Regions from separate parts of the Homo sapiens genome. Here regions 1 and 2 are each reported to be linked to region 3. The links are microRNA targets in miRTarBase. Many come from high-throughput screens and were not tested one by one. Region 3 holds a microRNA gene; each other region holds the end of a gene's coding sequence.

What was found. Region 3 holds the annotated microRNA hsa-miR-335-3p (UUUUUCAUUAUUGCUCCUGACC, at 2,217-2,238, shown strand). A microRNA usually pairs through its seed, bases 2 to 8, with sites in the 3' UTR of a target mRNA and lowers its output. Matches are read on the target gene's strand: a 7mer-m8 pairs with bases 2 to 8, a 7mer-A1 pairs with bases 2 to 7 and ends in A, and an 8mer does both.
Region 1: miRTarBase lists SGO2 as a target of hsa-miR-335-3p. Seed matches in the 3' UTR shown: 7mer-m8 at 670-676.
Region 2: miRTarBase lists TOB1 as a target of hsa-miR-335-3p. Seed matches in the 3' UTR shown: 7mer-A1 at 2,061-2,067.

The regions. Positions count from the first base shown.
Region 1 is chr2:200,582,883-200,586,143 of GRCh38, forward strand. SGO2 (shugoshin 2) reads left to right here. Exons shown (of 9, transcript NM_152524.6): 9 at 567-1,214. The coding sequence ends at 582. AOX1 (aldehyde oxidase 1) reads left to right here and starts at 3,132. Exons shown (of 35, transcript NM_001159.4): 1 at 3,132-3,261. The coding sequence starts at 3,227.
Region 2 is chr17:50,860,259-50,863,519 of GRCh38, forward strand. It overlaps TOB1 (transducer of ERBB2, 1), which reads right to left. Exons shown (of 2, transcript NM_005749.4): 2 at 1,965-3,261. The coding sequence ends at 2,722. Among named protein-coding and RNA genes, the nearest start is that of TOB1, 4.5 kb to the right of the region's middle.
Region 3 is chr7:130,493,946-130,497,206 of GRCh38, forward strand. It overlaps MIR335 (microRNA 335), which reads left to right and starts at 2,166; the gene lies at 2,166-2,259. MEST (mesoderm specific transcript) reads left to right here. Exons shown (of 12, transcript NM_002402.4): 2 at 1,423-1,577; 3 at 3,211-3,261.

The DNA of each region.
Region 1 (3,261 bases), not on the chromosome of region 3:
ACACCTACAGTACGATTCCATTTATATAAAGATATCTATCAAACAGATAAAACCAAACAATATACTTTGTGGGAGAGCAATACACAAACGCTTAAAACAAAACTGTAAAGAAAGGAGTGATAATAGAATTCAGGATAGTGGTCCCTTTTTGGGGGAGGAGAGGGTTGTGATCAGAAAGGGGCATATTGGAGGTGTGGTAATATTTTGTTTCTTAACCTGGGTGTAGGAACATGAGCATTTACTTTGTTTTTAAATGGTATATTTTCACATGTTCTTGAACATATGCTAAATTTCTAACAAAAAGGAACTATGTAATAAACATGTAATATATAAAATCTATGTTGATTAATTTTTCTTAAATATTTGAAATGAATTATTTGAAGTACTCTGATAGTGAGAACTATAAGATTTAAGAAAAATTAGAGTATTTCAAGTATTTAACAAAGCTTATGGTTTAAGGAAACTTCTTTTCTACTGATATGATGAAACAATTTTCTTCTCCATGCTTCACAGCAAAAGCATTAATTTTGGGTTGTTATTAATCTTCCTTTTTTTCTACTTTGCAGCAAGATGAGAAGATGAAGTGAATTTATGGATTCTGGTTTTTCTGAATTTTCAAAGCATAAGGAATCAAAACAGAAATATAGTATCAAGAAGATGAAATGCTTAATGAAAAGGTTTTTTTTTTGTTTCTTTGGCCTTTCATGGAGTGTTGATTTGTCCATTCTTAATGTTTATTAATAGGTATATGTGCATAAAATAGCTATTTTGTAACATTAAACTTTTTGAGTCATTTTGGTCATCATATAACTTACCTTCCTGTTTATTTAAGCTTCTTTTTACCTAGTAGCCTTTAACCAAACAATAACCTTTTAACCAAATAAAATGTGTTAATAAATACCTTTGCATTGGTTATCTTGTATACTAGGCTGTCTTGTTTTGCTGTCTGTTTTTAACCCATTCAATATATGTGGACATCCAAAAGGGTTTAAAAGCCACCTCCTGCCCTGGCCCGTTTTCTCTCCCTTCATTCTTCTGTTTTCAGAAATACATGTTGAATGTCAGCTTCTGTATTATTTCTATTATATGTAATCTGATGACTTAGAGGAGGAGATTAACCTTTCAGGCTCTTTTGAATTTGGTTTTTATAATTTGGTTTTAAAGATCACTTACTCTTCCAGTAATAAGTAGTAATAAATCCTGTTCATATCTGAGATCAATACACAGTTTATTGAATTCAAATGACTACTCAAACTCTATTCCACCTAGATGGAAAACTTTTTTAGACAATATCTGACCACTAACGCGGTGGGCCCAGAAATCTGCATCTTAATCAGATGCTTCAGGTGAGTCCGTCCGAGGATTGTCCTAGTACCACACTTTGAGAGACTGCAGTGGGGGTACAGAGTGCTGGAGGGGTTTAGTCAATAGCTCTAGTGAAGGATGGATAGTTTTATTCAAAGAATCCCAGTTGATGAATGAAGAAGAAATGCTAGAATTAGAAAAATTGCAAACCCCTATTAAAACTACCGCTCAGGCAATGCTCAACAATGGATGTAAAACAATTAGGTGAAATGTTGATGGAGAAATTCATTACAAAGGAATAGCCCTCTGAACCCACTGATCAATGTTAGCATCATTACGAATGAAACAACCAGACACCATATGCTTCCTGCTGTGCTGCAATATTAATTATATGGTACCACCTATGAAGTGTTCTTGCCCTCTCCCCCCCAAAAAATTGAACCTGAATTTAATCAAAGCTTTAGATCTAATATTTAGTGCATAGGAAATAAGTAGAGTAGAAAAACAATACCAGGGAGAAGCAATTAGCCACATTCAAAAAATGGTTCATTTCAATAGAACAACTGACCTGGTTTCTTTTTCAATGTGTTAATAGTGTTAAAAAGTCTGTTTTAGATCAAAAGAGACTGATGAGACCACATGCAAATACATTGCACAGCTCTTGTTTGATTCAAAGAAGTCAAGTGTAAAAGACATTTTTTAGACACGTGAAATGGTGTTGCGGCTGACTAAAAGGATGTGTATGTGTGTTTTTGAAGTATTTAGGGCTAAAATATGTCCAGGATTGGCTTTTAAATACTACAAAAAATGGAGTATGCCAAAACGTTGACCATTGTTAAAGCTCAGTGAAGGGCAGGTAGATGCCAATTGCACTCTTCACTTTTATGTGCAAAGTTTGGAAAATTTCACAATAAAATTTTTGTGTTTACATAAATGAAATAACATGGGAAAATGTTCTAAGGTATGGCAAGTGAAAAAAGCCTGGAAAATAACTAGTTTGTCCCACTTAAGTTTTTAAAGGTGTTAAAAGTACATGTTTCAAAAAGTAAGGATAGACTAAAAAAGTGAACGGTGGTAAGTTCTAAGTTGTGGGCTTACAGGTGTTCTTTATTTTTATGCTTTGCTGTATTTTCCAAGTTTTTTTTTTTAAGTTTTCCAAGATGTTTTACATCTCTGTTCTTATTTACCAGATAAACTTTGTGGTTAGTTACTGGATAAACTGTAAATAGTGATAAAATTTTTAAGTTTATATCAAGATAGCACTTCATTTTAAAACCAGTAATTATTAGGTTGGTGCAAAATTAATTGCAGTTGTTGCCATTGGAAGTGATGGTAAAAACCGCAATTACTTTTGCACCAACCTTATATTTCTAAAAGATCAAGTTGTAAACCTATTTGTTTTCCCTAAGATCCGCTCTTGCAGAGTTGGAATAAATATGATTGTTTACACTTAAGAGTCCAGGACTACAGCAGGCCTGGTTGGAGGGGAGTTACTAATGTTCCCAGACTTAAATCCAGCTGGAACACCACCTAAAATATGCAGTAACATAAGACCATCAAAAGCAATGTCCCAGGACTTACAATGTTTGCTAAGACGCAAGAGGGTGTGACACAGACGCTAAGCGCCACTGGCGAGGAGATGAAGGGGTCGTCTTCATCTTCGCCGGATGATTTCCGCCCACATAGAGGGCGCCAGTGACGCCCACACACGTGCTGGTGTCCCGGGAAGAGTTCCTGGCAAAGAGCTCAGGAACGTTGGATCTTAATCAAGGCTTTCTCCGTCGGGGTGGATGGGTTGGACTTTAGGCTCCAGCAAGCCCCGCCCCACTCGGCGGGTCGGTGCCGCCGGGTCCCAGGTGCCCGCTACTTCCCAGAACCTCCGCCTCCCGCTCCGGGCCCTCGAACCAGCGCGGACACCACAATGGACCGGGCGTCCGAGCTGCTCTTCTACGTGAA
Region 2 (3,261 bases), not on the chromosome of region 3:
CCTCAGTATTTAAAATCTGAATATATTAGTGCTTGGCTGGGTGTGGTGGCTCACGCCTGTAATCTCAGCATTTTGGGAGGCCAATGCGGGCGGATCACCTTAGTTCAGGAGTTTGAGACCAGCCCAGGCAACGTGGCGAAACCCTGCCTCTACAAAAAATACAAAAATTAGCAGGGAACGGTGGCACGCAGCTATAATCCCAGCTATTCAGGAGAGTGAGACAGGAGAATCGCTTTAGTGGAGGTTGCAGTAAGCCAAGATGGCCCCTTTGCACTCCAGCCTGGGTGACAGAGTGAGACCTTGTCTCAAAATAAAATGAATATATTAGTGCTCCAGACAGTTTCAAATTCTATTGTTGACCAGGCGCAATGGCTCATGCCTGTAATCAGAGCACTTTGGGAAGCCAAGGCAGGCAGCTCATTTGAGGCCAGGAGTTCGAGACCAGCCTGGTCAACATGGTGAAACCCCGTCTCTACTAAAAATACAAAAATTAGCCAACATGGTGGCGGGCGCCTGTAGTCTCAGCTACTCGGGAAGTTGAGGCAGGAGAATCACTTGAACCTGGGAGGTGGAAGGTTGCAGTGAGCCGAGATGGTGCCACTGCACTCCAGCCTGGGTGACAGAGCAAGAGACTCCGTCTCAAAAAAAAAAAAAATTCTATTATGTTCCGTCCAGCTGCCTTATGATTTTCAGAAAAAGCACATTACACTTGAGCCTTCATTTATAAGTAGAGTTTTCTCCCAAATGTAACTTTATCAGTCTGTAGCAGAAACTAGTGCTTAAAGCCATTATCCTGATGGTTCTTACAGCTATTCAAACTTCGTGATCACAAAAGCATGTAAGTGGTAAGTGTTGGCAGACCAGATCTCTGCTGCTTGCACCCATTATTCCAATACTTCTTCATAGCCTCGTTCTGTTCCCTAAAGAACAAAAGCCTCACCATGGAGCTGACAAACAGCTTAGCTCTGTTATTTCCAGTGCTTGTTTCCTTAAAACTTTGTATTGCTCTACACTGCATGGGTAAATGACAAAAGGCTTTTGTAGACTGGTGTCCAAAAAGCTCATGAGACCAAATTTATTTCACTGGTAACCCAGGCAGTGCTGGTTTCTTACTATAAAAGTACATATAAAGTTTTTTAAGACAGCTTTCTCACCAATACTATGTCAACACTGTATCAAATGGACGTTAACTTTCTCACCAATACTATGTCAATACTGTATCAATTGACATTTAGTGAAATGACTCATTTAGTGTTCTTCTCCCCAACTCTTCAGTTTTAAAAAACTCCATCCTCACCAAGCCACTCCAATTTGATACATTGTCAATATCTCTAAATCCTTCAAACCAGCAGGTTGGGTACCCACTTGCAAAAAATTAAATACATAAGCGTTTTTGCTGGGAAAATGAAAATGCTAACATCTAACCATCTGTCCAGCCGTGAATAGATTTTGACCATAAGTTCTCTAGCTATATGCAATAGCTAAACTTTAAAGATTAGTAAAGTGATGTAAATTTTTCTAAGTTCAGTCAGCCGTTTTGTCCAAGCAAGTTTCCTCAGCAAAAACAGAAAACTGATCCAATGCTCTCTCCATATAAATTTCAAATAAATCATCTCAGATTACACGAAGGAATTTCATCTTATCACCTGACTCCTCCATGTCAGCATGACATTTTGAAACTTGCTGTATAGCTAACCTTACCATACCATCTCTATAATGGGGTAGACAAATGTGGACTGAAGAGGGCTGTTAAAAAATAAAGTTGTACCAAGCACTGGTCAGGCTATAGTTTTGATAGCATTTTTTATGTGGCAAACCACGATCTGGTACATCAGTAGAGCAACTGCTTTCCATTATTCCTTCGTGACTCAATGAGTCAGGCCTTTTTCCATCATTAGCATTTACAACATAATAACTCCAGAGGTCGATCTTCAGAAAACACTTAAAAACAAAGACAATAGGCATTTTTAATTTTAAAGAATTTTAATACAAACTTAATATAAACTATTTCAGTCCCTCTTAACATGTAAGACACTGACTCAAAATACTTTTATACCGTTTTTTTCAAGTATTGCACAATATAGGTACAAAATTAATATTTACGATTACATTTTTCTTCCATAATATATAGCAAAAATCTTTAAACTTTTAACAGAAAATACATTTTTTTGAAAAAGCAAGTATTCGTACATTTTAATTCCACCACTAAAGGAATATCCTGTACACAATTTTTAGAATAGTTGATGTCTTTAAGATGGATATTTTACAATTTCAGTAAAAAAAATACAACATGAAGCTGCTGCTGTCACAGATCACTGTAGTAAAAAGATATAAATGCAATACCATGTCGTAGAAACAATATATATATATCCTCTGATATTTTACAAACTTTGTACTAAATTAAATTATACAATTAGAAAAGACCAATAAACCCACTTATTAGTGCCAATTTTTATAAAAAAAAATCAGCCATGTCCTTGCTATATCTTAAATACTGTAAGAGGCCATATCTGAGAGTATACTTTAAAATATACAGTCAGTATAAAATAACTTTGTGCTTGGTTGGCAAATGAAAAATGATGCATGTTTTATTATTATTTTTTTAACCAAGCTTGAATGTATCCTTACTATAAGCTTAAAAAAAAAAATTCTCAAGGAGGTGAAAAAAAAAATCCCCCTTGGGCCCGTGCATTTTAACTTGTACGATACATTTTCTTTTTTTTAGTTAGCCATAACAGGCTGGAATTGCTGGTTAGAATACTGCATGTTATTTAAGCTAAAATTCAAGCCATCTACAAAAGATTTCTCATTGAGGCCTCCATAGGCTGCAAACACATCAAAGGCATTACTGTACTGGAGAGGACTGAGGTTAAGGGGGCTGTCACCTGGGAACATTCCATTGGTACTACTACCTTGACCCTGCATATTAGGAAAAATAAATTCCTTGGCATTAGGAGAAAGAGCAGAGGTTTTCTGCTGTTGTTGCTGCTGTGGTGGTGGTGGTGGCGGTGGCGGCTGGGCTGGCTGCTGCTGTTGCTGTGGCTGCTGCTGGCTACCCAAGCCAAGCCCATACAGAGAGTGCATTGAGGAAGAGATGGCTTTCTGCTTCAAGAGGTCATTCACATTCAAGCCGAGGTTGATGGGAGAAGTACGTGCAACCTTGTTGCTACGGCCACTATTCTTCATTTTGGTAGAGCCGAACTTGGTGGCAGCAAAAGTGGCAGTGGTAAAGGTTAAAGGCTGAGTGGACCGGGGCATGAA
Region 3 (3,261 bases):
TTTTTTGAACCATTTCTAGTATTACCTTGAGAAGTAGGACCAAATGGTTCTATCCGTCTTATGGACAGGTACTTTGGAGAAAAAAAGAAATGACTGCCCTAATAATGCCTAAAAAATAGCCTGGGGAGCTGACATTGTTTAAGAAACATGGTTATTTTACCACTGTAAAACCACAGGCTTGTTTTTAGATTTTAGCAAAAAGTATCAGGGATATGGGGGGGAAAAGTATCTTGTAAGTTGAGGAAGTTAGCGAACGGGTAGGTAGATTACAGGCAATAGGGAAGAATGTGTGTACAGACGGAAAGCCATTTCCCCCAGGGCTTTAGCAATTAATTTATTTCAGCTCTATGACAACTCTAATTTTAGTTTTGGAGGGTATTATTTCCATTCTGGCTGTTTTGAGAGAACTTCCATTCTACTGACAATTCTTGATCTGTTGACCATCAGAAGTCATAGACTTGAAACAGAACGGTTTATAATTCCTGTTTGGCACTCCTTGTCAATGTGGATAAACTGACTTGTGCCTTTGAAGTCCTGGGCATGGGAGGGTTGGGTGTACCAACCAGTGCTCTTTTTCCAAAGACAAAATCAATTCTCACACGCTGGGTATGAGTTATGCCTTATCTGGGGGTGGGGGAGCATCTTAGGAAATTAAATGGAAACTTAAAGAGTCTGCTAAGAAAAGCAGAAATGTAATCTACCGCCTTGACCTCTCAAGAGATTAGATATTCAGGGTCATGACAAAGCTGCTTATGTTGGAATACACAGTGCAGCTATCTTACTTTCACAGACTGTTTACCCTGAGCAGTTTCTCAGCCCAAATCCAGAAAGGAGTACTAAATGGGGCTTCATTTAGGCAGGAGGGCTGAAAATCAGGAGTAGCTCTCTGCTTGAGGACATGTGATAAGTTACTACACACACACACTCTTTAAAACATGAGATATAGCACATATATATTTTTTGAACATTTTACTGGTTGGGGGTAGTGGGTAGATGGTAGAGCTTTTGGAGTAAATAAGAAAGAAGTTATTTTTTTCCTGGGAAGCCTTGATAAAAGTCAACGAAAGAGTGTCCAGCATTTAAGTCATGTCCCTTTTATTTATATAAAGTCCTCTTCAGCAGGTATTGGGAAGACCACAAGGGTAGGGGCTAAGGGGTTAAAGTCGGGGAGCAGAGGCAGAAGATTATATGTTGAAATAATGTATTTTTTTTCCTTAAGATTAGAATGATGAACAAATATGGTGAGTGCTATGGCAGACAGAGGTTTGATTATAGTCTCGGTCAGCTTTGTGCCTATGTGAAGGGCAATGTAATCATTGCATGGTAACAGCAATCTCCCACCCCATCTTACCAGGTTTTGGTTTGTAGATGAGTGGACAATGTTACCTGACTGCTTACAGTGGGTCTCTGCTTTTCCTACAGGATGAGGGAGTGGTGGGTCCAGGTGGGGCTGCTGGCCGTGCCCCTGCTTGCTGCGTACCTGCACATCCCACCCCCTCAGCTCTCCCCTGCCCTTCACTCATGGAAGTCTTCAGGCAAGTTTTTCACTTACAAGGGACTGCGTATCTTCTACCAAGGTAAGAAGTGGACTATTGGAAGTCCTGCGTGTATCGGTCACATAAGTCCCAGCTGAGGTATTTATTTTGTGGCTATTGGTCTCTTGTTGCTCCTTAATGATGGAGGAGAGTATCTCTCTCTCTTTCTGTGTAGTGTGCTTGCAGAGAAGCGCAGAAAACTGCTGGGAGAATGGGGGTAGGGACTGAGATTCCAACCTGCAGACCTTACCTTTTAGTATAAGTTTTCTTTGTAGCTTGATATGTATTCCAATATTAGTTTTTTTTTTTTTTTGAGCAACCTGTCAGGTAATATATAAAATATTAATAGATATAACCACCATTGGTTCTCTCTCCTTACCATCCCTGATTTCATTTTTTCTGTAGATTATTTGTAGTGTAACTGTGATTTAAGTCTTGATACCATTATATAAATTAATTTGCTAGTGATGATGATTATTATGACCACTACTTATCAAGTAATTACCATATGCCAGGCACTGAGTTATGTTTTCAGCCTTCATTGTTTAATCTTTACAACAGCATTTGGAGATAGGTGCCATTAACCTCATTTTATAGGTGAAGAAACTGAGAAACAGATTGGAAATGATTTGTTTTGAGCGGGGGTCAAGAGCAATAACGAAAAATGTTTGTCATAAACCGTTTTTCATTATTGCTCCTGACCTCCTCTCATTTGCTATATTCAATTAAGTAAGTATACAATTTTTATTATGTTGGCTTGGGTTACTTCCAGTTTTACTGTTTTAGAAAACTAATGTTGAAGTAAAAGCTTCATGTCCATACAGTTTATTTTTTCCTTACATTTTCAAACTATACTACTTGTATAAATGGAATGATTTTATTTGCACAGATTCTCAAGAACAAAACTCTTAGGCTAAAGTATATACAATTTTTAACTGCTTCTAAATTATTTTTGAAAACCTTATTACCAAATTTTCATGTCACTGGCAGTATATGAATATACCTGTTCTAATCCCATACTATTAGCAAGGTTAATATTGTCTAAATGTTTACCTAATTTAGATGATGCTGAATGCTTCCATATTGTCATATGCATTAAAAAAGTTCATGTTTATGTTGATTAAGCCCTTTTTATAGTTGACAGGATTTTGTAATAGTTTTATTATGTTTTTGATGTTAGATTGGGTCTCCTGCTGAATAAAAAGTGCTGAGCAAACAGCATAAGCTAAAGGTGTTCCTTGGGAATAGTTGCTGTATCTTAGAGAATTTCTGTGAGGCCATTCATGATAAAGTACAAAGAATTTGTAGTTTATGTGTTGTGATCATATGCTTTTAACTGAAAATTTACTTTTCACTGAAAAAATTTGCATATTACAGAACAAAAGGAGAAATGGGGAGATGCTGTTTAAAAACACCTAGGTGAAAGTAAACAAGGTGCCTTCAAGTATTTTCACATAGCATGATTTTTACAATGTTTTAATATACAGATTGAAAGGAGAAAAGGCCTGTTCTCACCTAACGCAGTTAAGCTTACATTTTACAAATAATTGTGTCATTTTAATGTCAATTTGGTCACAGTTGCTTGTTCTTTGTATCAGATTACTTAGATTTTAACATCTTCGAGGTTATTTTTATAGGGATTTGGCATAATTGATTGTACTTTCCTTCTTCCTAGACTCTGTGGGTGTGGTTGGAAGTCCAGAGATAGTTGTGCTTTTACACGGTT